Linked DNA regions of Homo sapiens. The protein of the gene in region 1 interacts with the protein of each later gene in a pairwise test. Each region holds a gene or a part of one and is shown on either strand. Other genes may lie near its edges.

Region 1 (3,500 bases):
AATGAGAGCCAATAAATAGGAGCTGTCGCAACTGTCCAATCTGCTTACTTTTCAGGTAAAATGACTTGTCCAAAAATCATAAAATTACTTAATAGTTATTCAGAATGTCTTCTGATTCTCTATGGCATGCTCTTTCTTCTACATTATACTATAGTCCCTTTTCTAAGAGATTTTTTATTAAGTAAGCATCATTAGACTGTATTCTTCATTTACATAAATTCCTAGTGCATTTTAACATAAGCAAACATAAAAATACCACTTAATTGTAAATGTAATTGATCTTAAGCTACTATGCTAGCAAACTAAATACTTAACATATATTTTATTTTCCAAACCTTTTTGTTTGGCCTTTTCTATTTCAGGAGAACTAGATTGAGGAATAGGGGTAAGAAATGATTTTAATGCCTCATATCTTTTAAAACTTGTTAAAGTTTACTTGTTAAAGTAAATTTGAACTTATGGCTTACCTTATATCAGGAGCAAATAAAGGCATTCAAGAATTATTCCATAGTTTAGTCTTCTTAAAATAACTATTGTAGAATCTCAGTATTTATAACATAGAAGACAAATTGTAATGATTTTGAGATGAGAATCCCTTAGATCATTTATTTATTTCCCATCCCTTTAAAAAAATGACAAAATTCAGACTGATAAAAAGGTTGAAAAAATATTATGAAAAATTTCTAAATCCTTTTCACCCAGATTTCCAAAATATTAACATTTTACTTCATTTGTTTATTCTCTGGCTCTCTCATTTGACAGTAATTAGTAATTTGATTGATGCCCTTTCCCCTAAGAATGTTAGTGTATATTTCTACAAACAAATGCATTCTCTTATATAACTACTTTACAATGATCAAAACCAGGAAATTAACACTTATGCAATATAATTAACAATCTATGTACTTTATTCAGATTCCACCAATTACCTCTTTAATATTCTTTATAGCAAAAGGAAATTTCTAGTCACGCATTGCCTTCAACTGTCACTTTTGTCTCCTTTAGTCTGGAACACTTCCTGAATTTTTCTTGCCATTGATATTCTTGAAGAGTAAGGTCAGTTCTTTTTTAGAATGTTTCTCCATTTGGGTTTATCTGATGTTTCCTCATGATTAGATTCAGGTTATTTAAATTTTTGATAGGAATACCAACAAAGTGGCTTTTCTTATCCCACAAAGAGTCTTGCTTAATCTGAGCATAGCCAGCCTGCAGACACCATGGACAGGCCTCTAGCCGAGGGACCCCGTATGTAAAGTTCTGCATATTTCTACCTAGGAGGACGGAGAACCTCTGGTCTCTTGACTCTGTAACAGTGCTAACTGTTTTAGGTAACTGTTCCTGATTTACGAAGTAAGCTTATTAGAAGAGTCCCTGTCCCACCTCAGCTGTTATTAGTATCTTGCTAAGCTCCCACATGGGAGGAAGTGAGCTTCCAAGATCATCTGGATTTGTCTTTCTTCACTTTTTCTCTCCTCTTTTCTTCTTCCTTATTTCTCTCTTCTTCTATAAATCGCCAAATCCTCTCCCCTAACAGCGACCTAGAAGAAACAAAATTTTTATCAGATTACAATTTTAGGAAGGAATAAGATAACAGATATTCCTTGATTAGTTGATGGAGAGATGAATGGACACGAATACATGAGAGTTGATGCTTTGGCTTCGTTTTATTTTACCCCTACTTCTTCCTCTACAACTGCTTATTACTCTTCAAAAGGACGTACAGCGATAACTTTGATTGCACCTCAGCCACTGCTCACAGGAGTTCAAACGAGCTGATGAAAAATGGAAGGTCTTCTCCTGGATGCTCAACACATTGCACCAAATGAGTTGGGAAGTAATAGGCACAAAACCAGAGCCTGGGACGGTGGAAAGAGCATGGGCTTTGGAGGCTGAAAGAACTTGGCCTTCACCCTGCCTTTGATGATTCTTAGCTGGGTGACCTTGTGCCAGTCCTCGGCTTCTCTATTTGCAGAATGGGGCTAATGACACCTAAGTTGTCAGGCCGATTTGAGGATTATAAATAAGACATTTATGAGGAACTTAGTTATTTTGTGGGATTCAGTGAACTATCTATTATGTATCTCAGTTTGTTTGAGCAAGGCCTACATTTGGGAGCCCTCACTGGGGCAGATTTTCGCTCCTATTTAGAAAAACTTTTTCTTAATCACAGCCTCAATTGTCTTTGCTAAGGAACAAAGACTGCCACAGGCTCTGTGTAGGAAGGGATAGGGAGCCGTAATTACCTTGCGAATGCTCTTGTATGTAAATTGACAATCTGTATATAGAGAAATGTATATGGAGAAGTGTCTGGAAAGACGTTTGCCAAAATGCTAATGATGGTTATCTCTGGGAGGTGGGATTTCAGAAGATTTTATGCTTTCTTCTTTATACTTTTCTTTATTTTTTAAATGTAGAATTTTTTTTTAAAGAAAGCATGCTTACATTTGCTTTCTATTGCTGGATTTTTCAACTTTTTCTAATAGGTTTGAATGGAGTAAGAAATGTGTTCTAATAATATATATTCTCAATCTTAGCTTACAAAGGTGTTTCTCTACCAAACACTTCCATTCACTGAAAGAAAACAATTTATGCATCTTAAAGAAACTGTGCTTACATTTGCCTTTTATTGCTGGGATTTTCCAACATGTCTTAACAGAGTTCAGTGGAGAAAGAAATGTGTTCTAATAACGTATTCTCAATCTTAGCATACAAAGGTGTTTTTCTATTAAACGCTTTTCTTCACTGAAAGGAAGTCTTACAGAAACTGTACTTGCATTTATTTATTTATCTTTTATTACTGAAATTTAACATTTTCAATTTGTTCTAATAGGTACAAATGGAAAAAAAACATGTGCTTTTCTTTATTGTTTGATTTCTTTTTGTTTTTTTATTTTTTTTACAAATGGCACACGAAACCTCTTTTTAAAACGTATGAAACAAGCAAGGGATTATTCTTGCCCCGTGTATGTTTTATTCCTAAAAATCTGTTAGAAGCTAAGGGTTACCCTTAGGAATGGACTGGTAGGTAAGGTCTGAACTTGATCTTTCAGTGAGTTTTCACTGAATAAGGCAGATACACAGGGACTGAGCCATCCTGGAAATAGTATCTCATTTAGCCCTCAGAACAACCTCTGAGGTAAGTATTAATAACCCTATTTCAAAGATATAGTGAAAGACAGGTTAAGCAAGTTGCCCAAGGTCACACTTCTGATAAGTAGCACTAACAGAATTCAAAACTAGACCTGTCTGATTCCAAAGCTAGTGTTTATCAAACTGTGTTCCACAGAATACTATGTTATTTGACCTGTTAATAAGTGATCTGCAACATAAAACTAGGTTTGTAGTTATATAAACATATTTTTGTCTTAGAGACTCACAGTGCACATTAGCATATAACAGGTTTTTCTCTTACACTGTTTTTTTTTCTTTATCTTGGCTTTTGTTTGAGGAGCACTTACTAATATCTCATAAGCGTAATGGTCTATGTAGCACCAAAGCTG
Region 2 (3,500 bases), on another chromosome or scaffold:
CAAAATATCTCATGTGCCCCATAAATATCTAACCTACTATGTACCCACAAAAATTAAAAATTGTCCAGGTGTGGTGACTTATGCCTGTAATCTTAGCACTTTGGGAGCCAAGGAGGGAGGATCGCTTGAGCTCAGGAGTTCAAGACCAGCCTGGGCAACATGGCAAAAAAAACATCTTTACAAAAAATACAAAAAATTAGCCAGACATGGTGGTATGTCCCTGTAGTCCTAGCTACTCAGGGGTTTGAGGTGAGAGGATCACTTGAGTCCGGGAGGTTGAGGCTGCAGTGAACTGTGTTTGTGCCACTACACTCCAGCCTGGGCAACAGAGTGAGACCCTGTCTCAAAAAAAAATTTAAAAACCAAAACAATAAAAACAGCAGTGGCAACTATTGTTTATAGAGGGTTTATGGTGTACCAGGCCCTCTGCAAGAATTTCTAATGGAATTCTCTTAAGAACCCTATGTTTTACCATGAACCCTACTTTTGGATGAGGAAAATAAGCTTGGAGAGGTTAAAGCACCTGCCCAAGCTCACACAGGTGACAAGTGGGAGGCCCCAGGTCTAAGCAGTGCTGAAGACGTCCCGCCTCAGGCAAGGATCACTTCCCCAGCACTTGCCTCATCATCTGCCATCTGACCTGTGGACCCACTGTCTGCACACGTTGAGCCTGGGAGTACGCACCTGGGAAGTCTTGGGACTTTCCTGTTTAAAATCTCCCCAGAGTGGGGTGGATTCAGGGTCTACAGCTCACCTCTGTCCCAAACTCATGCAGCTTTGAGAGACCAAGATATTCAGAACCGAGTGTGTTTTCTTTTCTTTTTCTTTCTTCTTTCTTTCTTTTTCTTTTTTCTTTTTGTTTGTCTGTTTGTTTTTTGAGACAGAGTCTTGTTCTGTTGCCCAGGCTGGAGTGCAGTGGTTCAATCTCGGCTCACTGCAACCTCCGCCTCCTGGGTTCAAGCAGTTCTCCTGCCTCAGCCTCCTGAGTAGCTGGGATTACAGGCTCCCGCCACCACGCCTGGCTAATTTTTGTATTTTTAGTAGAGACGGGGTTTCACCATGTTGGCCAGGCTGGTCTCAAACTACTGACCCGCCTCAGCCTCCCAAAGTGCTGGGATTACAGGCATGAGCCACCATGCCCGGCCCTGAGTCTGATTCTTAAGCTGGGTAAGTTTCCATGTATTAATTTTATTATACTTTATAACTGATAGATATACAGTCTATATATTCTACCAGTGCACAAGATATCATAATAGAAAAGGCCATGATGATAAAGTGAAAGGGAGAGATGGCATTTATGCTAACATTCACGATTTGAGTAATCAAATGAGTGAACGAATGAAGCAATCTACTTTAAAAAAGAGGGCCATCAAAGCTGGAAGTGTAGAAGTGTCCTTTCTTTTACTATCTATCCACCCACCTATTCATTCCTCTATCGTCCCCACCCTACTCCATCCTGCCTTCCTTCCATCCATCCAATAAATAAACATTTCCTGAGCACTCAGTCATTATAGCTGTACCTAGGGAATAGCCGCAAATAATTGACTGACACACCCTGCTCTCAAGGAGCCCTCAGTTTAGTTCAGAAATGAGGAGGCCAAGGCCCAGAAAGGGAAAGTGATTTGCCCAGGGTCACACAGCAAGTGAGGGAAATGAGGTAAAGAAGGGTGAGGGTATTCCAGGTGGAGGGGAACCCATGGGCAAAGGCTCAGACCTGTCTGCCTCCAAAGCGAGCCCCTGTCAATCACTGCCTGAAACCCGCCTCCTGGCTCTCCATGAAGGCCTGAAGAGCCTGCCTCACTCCATCGCTACTTTCATTTTTGTTATTCTTTTGGAAGGGGAGGAGGAGCCAGTGGCTGCTGCTGTCCAGCTGTTATGTCGGACCGCACATCCCAGCCCAGATGTGTCAAACTCTCTGTGATGGGTGAAGTGGCTTCTGGGCCACGAGCCACGAGCCAACGGCCAAGGAAGCGGCAGTGAAGGCTCTGTCCCAGGGGAATTAGGGGAGGAGGCACACTGAACCCGGCGGCAGGGAAGCCCATGGTTGCTCCAGCTATCAAACTGGCCTTGTAGACAATATGGTGTGTCTAGGTGGTGGGGATCAAGATCTTTGACATTCCAAAGAAATCAATACCTTTGACATATTTCCTCTGAGGGTCAGAGTCCTGGGGCATTTCCTGCCTCTCCCAGCTTCTCCTGAACCAGACAATCCCACCCCCACACATTCCCCAATCCTGGTCCAGGGTCCTGCCATTCAGTCTGGCTTCCCCAGGGCTGCTCAAGAGGGTTACACAGAGTTCCAGCTCACAGTCTTGACTTAACTCCACCCAAATATTCCTCCTCCATCCTGCCCCCAGGAGTGCTGAGACTTCCAGAGAAACAGCCTGTTCTCCAGCATCTGGAGCTGGTTTCTTGAGGGAGGTTCAAGGGCAAGCCAGGTTCCAGAGAGAGATGCTCCAGGAGGGCCTCGGTACCAGGACTCGCACGAGGCACATGATACAGGGAGAAGACACAAAACAGGGATGTCCTTTATGCTCCCCTCTCCTGGTGCAGTAGCCAGGCCAGGCCAGGGCAGACAGAAACAGAGTCTCCTGAGGAGTCCTGGGAGCTGCAGAGAGCAAAGATCCAAGTCCCCAGAAGGGCTGGGGAACAGCATCCTGGGGGTGAATCTGATAGGGTGTGAAATGGGATGTGGGAGCTTATTCAGGGGATCTGGTTTTGCCCATAAAGCTCTAGGCATCCAAGGTGCCCTAAGGATGGGAGTGGGTGAGGATGAAGACAGGGACCCTGTGATATGAAAGATCCTGAATTTTCCTTGCTCTAGAGGGGAAATCTCAAACTAGAACAATGAGAGAACTTGCTTGTAGCTTCTTCTTGCTCCCCTCTTTGACTCTCCATAGGACTCCTGCCCTTGAGCAGAGTGCACAATGGATAATAATGCCTATACGTGTTCAGTAAAAGGAACATGGCCCCAGTCCCTGTGGAAATGCCTTTTTTTTTTTTTTTGGAGATGGAGTTTTGCCCTTGTTGCCCAGACTGGAGTGCAATGGTGCGATCTTGGCTCACTGCAATCTCCACCTCCTGGGTTCAAGCGATTCTCCTGGCTCAGCCTCCCAAGTAGCTGGGATTACAGGCACATGCCACCATGCCTGGCTAATTTTTTTGGTATTTTTAGTAGAGATGGGGTTTCACCATGTTGGTCAGGCTGGTCTCAAACTCCTGAACTCAGGTGATCCACCTGCCTCAGCCTCCCAAAGTGTTGGTATTATGGGCATGAGCTACCATGCCTGGCCAGAAAAGCCTTCTAATAACTCCTTTGCCACTAAGGAAGAGGGAAATTGGGGCAGCATGTGCAGAGATCACCTTCTGAGAAAGCTTTCATGACCTGTAGCCTGGCTCAGCCTCCTGCCATGCTCTGCTCCATCATGGCGCCCACCATGGTGTTGATACTGCCTATTTCCCTCTCTGTCTCTCTCATTCGTCCGCGATTGACTGGAGGG

Evidence for each region. The genes of interacting proteins can lie anywhere in the genome.
Region 2: the proteins of CD53 (region 1) and CREB3L1 interact in binary tests that used the Homo sapiens proteins (3 or more experiments, as listed by UniProt).

Annotation. Positions count from the first base shown.
Region 1 is NC_000001.11:110,876,148-110,879,647, forward strand, and holds part of CD53 (leukocyte surface antigen CD53), read left to right. Parts: exon of another isoform or gene 1-1,487; coding exon of another isoform or gene 1,488-1,538; intron 1,539-3,500. UniProt on the Homo sapiens protein: Structural component of specialized membrane microdomains known as tetraspanin-enriched microdomains (TERMs), which act as platforms for receptor clustering and signaling.
Region 2 is NC_000011.10:46,284,162-46,287,661, reverse strand, and holds part of CREB3L1 (cyclic AMP-responsive element-binding protein 3-like protein 1), read right to left. Parts: intron 1-3,500.